Homo sapiens: one gene and its partners. The protein of the gene in region 3 interacts with the protein of the main gene of each other region in a pairwise test. Each region holds a gene or a part of one and is shown on either strand. Other genes may lie near its edges.

Region 1 (2,837 bases), about 52 Mb from region 3:
GCAAAAATGGTTTCACGTTTGCTTAAATGCTTCATCACAGTCACATTCAAAATAGTGACTCTAAACAAAGAAGAAAGCAGCACTGTCATCAGATGCATGATAAACCAAAATATGAAAATGGGAAATGTTTAATTAACCTAGTAATTGGGTGGGTTAAGTACATGGGTGAATTTTATATGTGATTTTTGTTTTGTTTTGTTTTGTTCAGATTAACTGCTTATAGCCTTAGAAAGCCTTTTACAAAATTAAAAAAAAAATAGATGTGCATTCAGTTTTTAAGAATGGAATCATCCAAAGGAATTCCTTTTTTTGAGGTTTGGATGTTGCAGCTAGTAAAGGATATTTTTGCTCTGTTCAGCAGTTCTAAAAATTGCTGAAGTAGGGGCCAGGTCACTGGTAGTTATAGTATGGAATGGGAGAAGTGAAAGTTCAGTTATAGAACTTTCCATACTTCCAAGTTTACTGCAAGTTTTTATGCTTGAGAGAGATGCTTTCTAATATAAGACTGATGTGTTGATTTTACTGATTGTACTGTACATCTATTAAAGCCTTAGATTATTACATTACGGGTTGGAACCCATACCAATGTAATTTCAATCGTGTTAAGAAAGTAATGGTGACTTCACATGTTATTGTAGTTAGTTACATTATAGAATATTACTTATTTTTCTTGTTAAAATGTAGTTTTTCATTTCCTACATTTATTAGATTTTCATTTTCTATTAACAATTGAATACCATTTCAGTTTATAGACTTGTTTTATTAGATTTTACCAATGAATTTTTCAAAATACAAAAAAAAGTAGTTTTTCCTTCATAACATACTCAGTTTTGAATTACATGTAGTGTCACATGAATATTCGTATTGTTAACTAAATGATTTATATTTTACTGATTTAATATTACAGTGTAAGAATGTCAGTCATTGTTAGTTCTTGTCTAGTTTTCATTAAAAGAACAAAGATCTTTTATATGGATATCTTATAAATATATAATCATTGCTAAGTAAGAAGTTAAGTTGTTGCTATCGCAACAATCCTGGCAGACAATTGAGTAATATTTTGATGATTTATTTTGTTTGTAATTAGTTATTATAAGAAGATCTAGATCCTAGATATTAGAATAAAATTTATTTTCTACTGTATCCATTTCAAATGTTAAAATATTGTTTAATATTTTTGAAATCCCTGAGTATCAGGCCTTGTTATAAATAAGCTGCATAATCAATAAATAGAACAAGGGACTTTTTGTTGATAATCCAAATACTCAAAGTTTACGTAATGAAAATTATAGCGTGTGTGCAAACTCTTGAGGGTTGATTATGCTGCAATTTAGCATGTTGGAACGTCTAGGGAGAAGGTTGACTTTTTGCACTTCTGTATATAGTCAAAAGAGAGAAACCTGTATAATAGTAAGATCTTATTTTGAATAAAAACGTCTATAATTACAAGGAGTTTTGTTAAGGCTAATACAATGACAGACTGAGCAAAATTGCTTGCAAAAGTGGCACAGAGTTAGCACTCCATACCCCTTCAAACATGTTGCTTTGCTTTCTTGTGGACAGCTTGTAGTTTGCCAGGATTTTTTCAGCTGGAAAGATACGCCATCCTTTCAAACCCTCATGACTGACAAAAACTCCATGGGGCCAAATCTGCCTGAAGATCATTACCAAAAATAGCAGGTACTTCTACCATTAAGGTGAAATCATGGATCAGATATTCCTTACATTTTTCAAAACTACTGCATGTTTAAAACTTCAACAAAAAAAGAGAGAAAGAACTATACTAAGAACATATATTATTCAGATCAGTTTCTGCCAATTTCAGTGGTTTATTGTTCACAAAAAAATCTTCAAAACAAGTATTGACTTTCACAAAATTTAAATCATAAACAGGCAAACCAAACAGCACACTGTAGCTATAGTTGTTATGTGATTGTTTTTTAATTGCTGTAGGATCCTGTTCTTTCAGCAGGTGAAAAATAAAACGCAGTTCAAATTTCATGGTTTTAATTTTCAACTCAGAAGCACTCAAAAATGCAAAATGTGATAATGGGCACTTGTTTAAAAGAATTAGTGTATCCAGCCTTCACTCCAGCTGGTTAAAAATGTTGCACTTATCAGCAACCCTACCACTTTCATCTGCTGAAAGGACAAATGTGCTTGGTTTTACTATTATGTAATCACAACTTACTTTCTGCTTGTAGTTGCTTAAAATTATGTATTTTGTCTTGGGCTGCAATTTGTTTTATGCTTATTTTATTATTACTGCAGTAGTTGACTTTGCTGTATGGAAAAATAAAGTGAAATTGCCCTAATAAAACTTCTCTTTCTTAAGTATATTCGTGTATCTGAGATTGAATACTAAATTATTTTTGCGTGTTTCATGTATTCATGCATATGTATCTATCTTTACAAACATATTGATGTATAAATTTGTTACCTGGTTTTAACTGATTGCAACTGCGAGGAAGGCATTTGTTGTCTTTCTCACTAATTATCCTTTGACACTGAGAGGGAGAATCTAAATCAGCATATATTGCCCTCCTGTGCCCAATGTTTTCTGAAATTCTTGCCTTCCCCTGTCTGACACTTTAAGCGCTGATTGAAATAGTTTTAAGTGTCAGGGCAAAAAACGGTAAGAAAAAAATTATTATACATTATAGATCACTATCTATCTTTTATTAAAGAAATCTTATTTGCCTGACTGCTGCGTCAGCTGATTAGGACTGGAAATCAGGCAATCCAAGAGAGGTGATGGCACTGTATTCAGAGGGATGAAAGAAATTATGCATATGATCTATGAGGCAGGCCATGATATTACTCCTGAGGGGTGTGTG
Region 2 (3,661 bases), on a different chromosome or scaffold from region 3:
CAGAAACACTTATTCATTGGCAGTTCAATAGACATAACGCCTAATATTTTAAACAAACTGTATTCTCAACATCTTTTTACTTTCAGTTTCTAAAGAGAAAATACATCCTTACCCAAAACTTACCCGCTTCTCCTTGAGTGCTGGGCTGTCATCCCCAAGGGCAAGACGAGAAGCACAGCTCCGGAACTCAGCCAGGCCCAGGATTGGCAGATACTCGTGATTTAGGCTATTGTCATTAGCAATCTTCTGCTCCACTTTCTTCACTACTGGCAAAACCCAGGGATGGCAGTCATCCGTGCGATATGCTGGAGAATGGAAAAGAGTTATACATAGTGGAGGCTCATGCTGTGTCCAAGTTAAGAGTTTGTAACTGTGAACCAGGAGAATCCCACCACCTTCCGGTCAAAACAGAACAGTGAAGGAAATTGGAGAAAAGTTTGTTCACTTACTGAGTACCTAATTTGAGCCAAGCATTGGGCTAGGTGCTGGGCAAACATAAGGGCAGATGTGGTCCCCATCCTTGTGGAACTTACAGCTCTTAACTATGTGACCTCCAAAAAGTAGAATGCTGAAATAAAACTGGGACATCACAGAGCCTGGTCACATGAGAAAGTACATAGAAAAGCACTCTGCAAAGTAAAAAGCATCTTGCAAATGTCATGTCAATATCACTAGTGCACTGAGGTCTCTAGGCCATTGGCCCAGCAGTCTTCTTCCTTCTGCATCTCCCCAAGAGACTTCCAGAAAAAGCCTAGGTGCTACTTCCACATGAACCTGGCACCTTTAACACAAACATGGAGAAGGAGTGGAAGAAGGCCCACCACTCCTCTTGTCCCAGAGGAACAGAAATAAGACGAATGATAAGCAAATGCCCTGACGATTTCAATGACAGGTGACACAATCACCCAAGGACCCACTTAAACACATCTCTATCCTCTCTCTGTATTTTGACCTCAGCCAGTGTTTACCCTTCTGACTTCATCCCACTTCATCTGCCTCACCCTTTCATTGATCTAAATTGATCTATTTCACAATATTTGATCCTGCTCTACAGTAAACCTCTAAGCATTTCCTCTTCCTCTGAAAGTATTTTTAAGTCACTCTGAGTTATCCAGCACCAATTTTTTTCCCTACACTATTCTATGATTATGTTAGGATTAGAGCTTTACAGGGCAGTTACCTTAGCTTTGCACCCACGCCAATAATCTGTCCAAGTAGGATTCCTGGCAGGGGTCATTTGCCTCTCTGTTTGAATGTTTAGGTCCTCAATAATCCTACACTTACGCAAGTGATTTTGAAATGGAAACAAAATTTTAGAGTGATACTGATTTTTATTTTCTTGATTTCTGCCCAAAATTAATCCCTGACTTAAAAAAAAAATTACATTTTAGGGTTGTTGTTACCATTTACTGAACAACACGTGTTGATTGTAGAAAATTGGGAAAAGCCCAGAAGGTAAAAAATAAACATTATAATTAACATGTGATTGTGTTTTGAAATGTGAGAAGGCGATGAGATTTGATAGGGGTCAGGAGTAGACTGATATAGTTTGGCTGTGTGTCCCCACCCAAATCTCATGTTGAATTGTAATCTCCAGTGTTGATGGACCATGGGGGCAGATTTCTGCCTTGCTGTTCTTGTGACAGTGAGTGAGTTCTCACTACATCTGGTTTTTTAAAAGTGTATAGCACCTCCCGCTTTGCTCTCTCTCCTGCTGGGCCATGTGAAGGTGCTTGCTTGCGCTTCACTCTTCCTCCATGATTGTAAGTTTCCTGAGGCCTCCCAACCATGTTTCTTATATGGCCGGTGGAACTATGAGTCCATTAAACCTCTTTTCTTTATAAATTACCCAGTCTCAGGTAGTTCTTTATAGCAGTGTGAGAACTAACATAACATATAATCCCAGTACTCAGAGACAAGGAGTATGAAAATTTTGGTGTACAACCTTCTAAGCTTTATTTTTGATGGGCATATTCTTTTATAAAATATGGATCAAACTGTACATAGAATTTCAACATGCTTTTTTCCATTTAAATATATACTATGCATTTTTCCTCCTCATTAACTATTCTTCTAATAGGTGACATGTTTGCATGTCTCCATCCCATTCTTATCCTCTATCTACCTAGTTCTCAAATCCCTCCCTCCATAAATAACAACTGTTAGTTTCTTACATATCCTTCCTGCATTTCCCTATGCCTACACAAGCAAACACAGCTTCTTACATATGCCCTTTTAAACAAAAGGTAGCATACGGCATACTATACACTGTTTTGTGTTCCTTGCTTTTTCCACTTGAAAATCATTTTACATTTGCGCATAGAGAGCGTCCTTGTTCTTTTTTACAGCTGCTTAGCTGATGAATGTACCATATTTTACTTTGCCAGTCTCTTGTTGGACATTTGAGTTGTTTACAATCTTTGGCTATTAAAACAATACTTCAGTGAACGACCCTGTACATACGTCATCTCACATGTATGCAAATATATCTGTAAGATGCTGGGTGGAAAACAAAAGAGTGGGCTAAGAAGTATGTGTTTTTGTAATTTTGACAAATATTTCCAAATTGTCCCAATTGATACAGGAATTATATCAATTTACATTCCCACCAGCACTGTTTAAGAGCGTTTGCTTCCACACAGCCTTACGCACTGAGTGTATTTTTGCCAATATAATATGTCAAGTAGTTTTAATTTGCATTTATCTTATTATGAATGCAATTGGGTATTTTTCATAAATATGAGCCATTTACAACATCAGTTTAGTGGATAAATAATATTTGTTTTATATATAATTTATTAACTGTGTTGCTTTAAATTATTTGCTATTATAAACATTGTGATAAATGTTCATATATTTACACATATTCATGAGTGTTTTCTTAGGAAAAATATCTAAATGTTAATTTATTAGGTCACAGGATATACAGTAAAAAGACTTTATAAGATCATTTTGAATGATCAGCTAACTCTACCCTCCAGGAATATGTCATCTGCAAATCTGAGAAACATTTCAAGTTAGTAATAGAAATGTGGACAGGGCTACAGACTGACAGAGCCACTGACCAAATGCCTCTGGGTAGGTGAATCAAACAATACTCTCATACCACTCATAGTCTACCCTCCGGCTCTGGTGAATCTAACTCACAATATTTTTTTCTTTTTTTGAGACAGGGTCTCACTCTGTTGCCCAGGTGAGAGTGCAGTGGCACGAACACAGCTCACTGCAGCTTCAACCCCCTGGGCTCAAGCAATTCTCTTGCCTCAGCTTCCCATGTAGCTGAGACCAAAGTCATTCACCACCAGGACCAGCTAATTTTTTTTTTTTAAATTTTTCATAGAAACAGGGCCTCACTTTGTTGCCCAGGCTGGTCTCAAACTCCTGGGCTCAAGCAAACCTCCCGCCTCGGACTTCCAAAGTGCTGGGATTACAGGAGTGAGCCACCATGCCTGGCCCAACTCACAATACTCTCATACCATTCATGATATACCCCTTAGTCCACCAAACTTCTCAACAAGTTCAAAAAGCCTCCTTCGCCAGCTGGGATTTGGTCTGGCTTCTCTAAAGATGTACCAAAATAGCTACTTCCAAGTAAGAGTTGTCCCTAAAGCACATCAACATATCTATGATCACAACGTTACCATTGTTCAAAATATTCTTG
Region 3 (3,661 bases):
AAAATTACATACAATTTGAAAAACAGAAAGGTGCATAAAGAAACTTCATGATATCATTTGATACTACGTTGGTGCTCTAAATAAGGAATATATGGGGAATTGTAGTTGGATCTTGGCTCTAAGAGTATTGTTCAGAGACTCAGACATGACACAGTTTCAAGCTGGGCTATGGAGCAGATAGCTGTCTTGAATTAAGTCATTGCATATTTCTTTAAAAAGCAAGCTTTCCATATTTTGAGATGAATACTGTAATGAGATGACAACAAAAGATGGTACAATAGCCTATATAGCACCATAGCAAAATCTGACAATGAGTAAGAAAAAGGACTTGCTGAAGGACATAGAGAGTCATTACCTGAAGATGTCCCAGGAGTAATAGGTCCAAAGTCTGTAGCAAGAAATGATCAAAAGCAATTTTAAAAAGAAATAAATGTTAAACACACGAGAAAAGCCATCATTCTCTTGAAAAGTGAACTTTACCATTATAGCGTTGGTTCTATAGCCACAAAGCAAACATTTTGAAGTTCTCAAGTGAGGGTACATATTTATTTGCTTTTATGAAACAGATATAACCTTAGCATCTGTAACATGGTTAACTACCAGTTTTTCTTATTTTTATATTATCTGATGATATAGTAGAAAACACTGCTTAGAAAAATCTTAGGACATCTAATAATGTTATGTTTAAAAATTAGGAAAAACTAATGTGAAAGTGTAGTTACACTATAAACTGGAAAACAAAGCCCTAGTTCATGATAGATGCAATTACTGATATGTTTAAGCAGATACACTGATGAATGACTAAAACAGATAATGCTGTTCTTTGTTGAGAGTGCACTTTGGAAAAAGACCAAGACCTCTGTTCAAATAAAGGCATACAAAGAACCAGATATAGAGGGTCATTCAATCCATCAAACTTGTTAGTGCATCTCTTTGTTATCAGGAGAGAAAAGGCCTGACCTCTAGGTTAGGAGAGCGTGCTGGAGCCAATTGGCTCAAATCCAATCATCGAAGTCAGGCATTCGAAGTGCTCTTTGTAGACCCATCAAAAGCAGCATTACTGTCCAACTAAAAGAACTTTGCCTTTCTTACAATCAGGTTGCACTTGCAATTCCTATCCTTCCAATGTCACCCTCACACGACACCTTCCTGCCTCTGTTTATATGATTCCTACCCATCCACCAATAAATCTACAGGCTCTACAAATTTCAAGGTCCACAAGATGAGCTCTTGCTCCGTTGCCTGGGCTACAGTGCAAGGGTGCAATTGTAGCTCACTGCAGTCTCGACTTCCTGGGCTCAAGCGATCCTCCCACCTCATTCACCCAAGTAGTTAGGACTACAGGTGCACATCACCATATCTGGCTAGTTTTTCTTAAATTTTTTGTAGAAATGGAGTTCTCCCTAAAGGTTCACATTACACTTATCAGCCCACAGATGTTTTGCTTCTCTAAGAATTAACGATGTGCCTAACAGTTGGTAAAATTTAATAAATATTTGCTTTTCCTCACATTCCTGTATATCTATTATGAAGAGTCTCACACAGGTAAGTCATTTGTTTTTTTCTAAAATATTCCTCACAGATACAAACGTTCAAAATGTGTGACAGGTTGAACTAAATATGCTAACTAGACACCTAATCAGGTCAGTTTTTGCTGAGCTGAGGAATCAAAGAGAAAAATGTAATTGAATGTCAGAGAAGCAAGTAAAATTCCCAGGCACCAAGGAGGTCCTCACGCAATCAGAATGAGGAAGTCACAGGTATCGCCAGAGCACTGTGTTGGTAGCAGCTGCTTTCCATGACTTGGGCCTTCACCCCAAGGGTCAAGTGGGTTATAAAGTGGCATGTTAAACTGCCACCCCCATGCCACATCCAATGGGATGCCACAGGGACAAGGAACCACATATTATTTACCTAGTTTGGTCTGCAGTGTCTCTGGGCGTGGCGTGGTTTTATGTTTGGGACGTGGACGACGTGTTCTTGTTCGTTGCGATGTTTTTGGAGCTAAAGAAAGGAAACTGGTTATTGTAGTCATATGACTCCAGAAACCAAAGAAAGGATTACACATGGTTCTAGGTTTTCTAAAGTTTTCCTAAGTCTTGAGAAATTTGTCTCTTTGGTTTAGAATTTTCTTCTGATCATCTATATGCAAAAATATGTATTTTTGGTCTACTGACAGGTCTTTTGAGACAGATGGAATATATGTAATTTAAAAAAATAAACTGCAACTTTATTATTAGTTGCTGGTATAGGATTTTCAAAGAGGGCCCAGACCCAAGGGAAGTCAGACATAGGCACGTAGACATCACATCAGAGAGGGACCCAGGCCTGCCTGCTTTTGGGAGAGCGTACTAAGAAATTACTTGGCTCAGACACACATTCCATTACAAGTTATTAGTATAAACACATTTTGTTTTCTAAAATAGTTGGTAGACAATAAAAATTCTCTGTATATCTTAAAACAACAGAAAGTAAGATGCCCACAGAATTATAATTGATATTTATCAGGCAGACATTCCTAATTGTATTTGAAATTCAGTTTTAACATAGAACACTACTGGAGCAGAATCACAGGCTCTGTCAAGCATTAATAAAGCTGGATAATATGGGAAAAATGGGACACAGATGCTGTTCACTAGTGGCGTATGGGCTTATAACCAAGTAACTTGTTTTAAGCACTTTCAATACATTCAAAATGAAGAATATAGTTCAATGACAAGAGGATGATGAGAAAATCTTATGAAAGAAAAAACCCTTAGCCCAAATAGTGATGGAATAGACTAGACAATGAGCAGAAAAAACTCATACTTAAAGACATAAGAGGTCATTACCTAATGTTGTCACTGTAGCCTCAGTTCTCACAGTTACAGGCTCAATGTCTGTGGTGGGAACTAACCAAAAGCAATACAATAAACAATGGAGATTAAGAAATACAGAAAAACAAAGTTATTTTGAAAATGAATCTTCTTAACCCTTTAATGTTTTAAATACATTTCTGAACTCTGGGAAAATAGTATTTGTTTTCCCCTAAGTAGCCAAACTATCATATCCATTTATTTCACAAAATACCCATACCCTTTGCATCCCTATAAGGGCAATGAAAAATATTTTTCTGTATTTCATTATCTGATTCCAACAACATAAAAAACCTGGATCCAAGAAAATCTTAGTTGTCCAATATATAATTTTAAAGTACTCTAAAAATTTGTTATAAAAGCTTCTGTTGGTATTTAAAAAGTTTTCACCACCATTATTAATTTGTTTTGAGAGTGGTAGTTGTGAGGAGAATTAGAAAGATGTTTTCAGTCTATTTACTGGAGATTTGTGAGAGTTGTGCAAAAGTCTTGTACGTTTTATTTGTAATAAATGTGATATTGCTTCTTACTCTGCCTCCTTATTCATTTATTTCAAATTGCTAATTAGGAGATAATTATTCAAGTAGAAAACAGAGATAATTAAGAAGAAGGTCTAAAAGGTAATAATACAACTTTTTGTCTAGATATAAAGGATTTCTATAACATTCTGAAATTGATTATACATAGATATAAAATTAATCAAGAATTGTAACTCTCTGGTATTAGCATCTCCATTTATCTTTCACTAAACCCAGAAGGCTAAATGTAACATTCAAACATCTCATCCTCAAAAACTCTTTAGGCAT

The links.
Region 1: the proteins of ABI3BP (region 3) and MBNL1 interact in a two-hybrid assay, tested with the Homo sapiens proteins (one large-scale study listed by BioGRID and IntAct).
Region 2: the proteins of ABI3BP (region 3) and GOT1 interact in a two-hybrid assay, tested with the Homo sapiens proteins (one large-scale study listed by BioGRID and IntAct).

Annotation. Positions count from the first base shown.
Region 1 is NC_000003.12:152,463,444-152,466,280, forward strand, and holds the end of MBNL1 (muscleblind-like protein 1), read left to right. Parts: 3' UTR 1-2,337; downstream 2,338-2,837. UniProt on the Homo sapiens protein: Mediates pre-mRNA alternative splicing regulation. Acts either as activator or repressor of splicing on specific pre-mRNA targets. Inhibits cardiac troponin-T (TNNT2) pre-mRNA exon inclusion but induces insulin receptor (IR) pre-mRNA exon inclusion in muscle.
Region 2 is NC_000010.11:99,420,501-99,424,161, forward strand, and holds part of GOT1 (aspartate aminotransferase, cytoplasmic), read right to left. Parts: intron 306-3,661; coding exon 124-305; intron 1-123. UniProt on the Homo sapiens protein: Biosynthesis of L-glutamate from L-aspartate or L-cysteine. Important regulator of levels of glutamate, the major excitatory neurotransmitter of the vertebrate central nervous system. Acts as a scavenger of glutamate in brain neuroprotection.
Region 3 is NC_000003.12:100,832,770-100,836,430, forward strand, and holds part of ABI3BP (target of Nesh-SH3 isoform 8 precursor), read right to left. Parts: intron 2,892-3,661; coding exon 2,832-2,891; intron 2,005-2,831; coding exon 1,915-2,004; intron 389-1,914; coding exon 356-388; intron 1-355.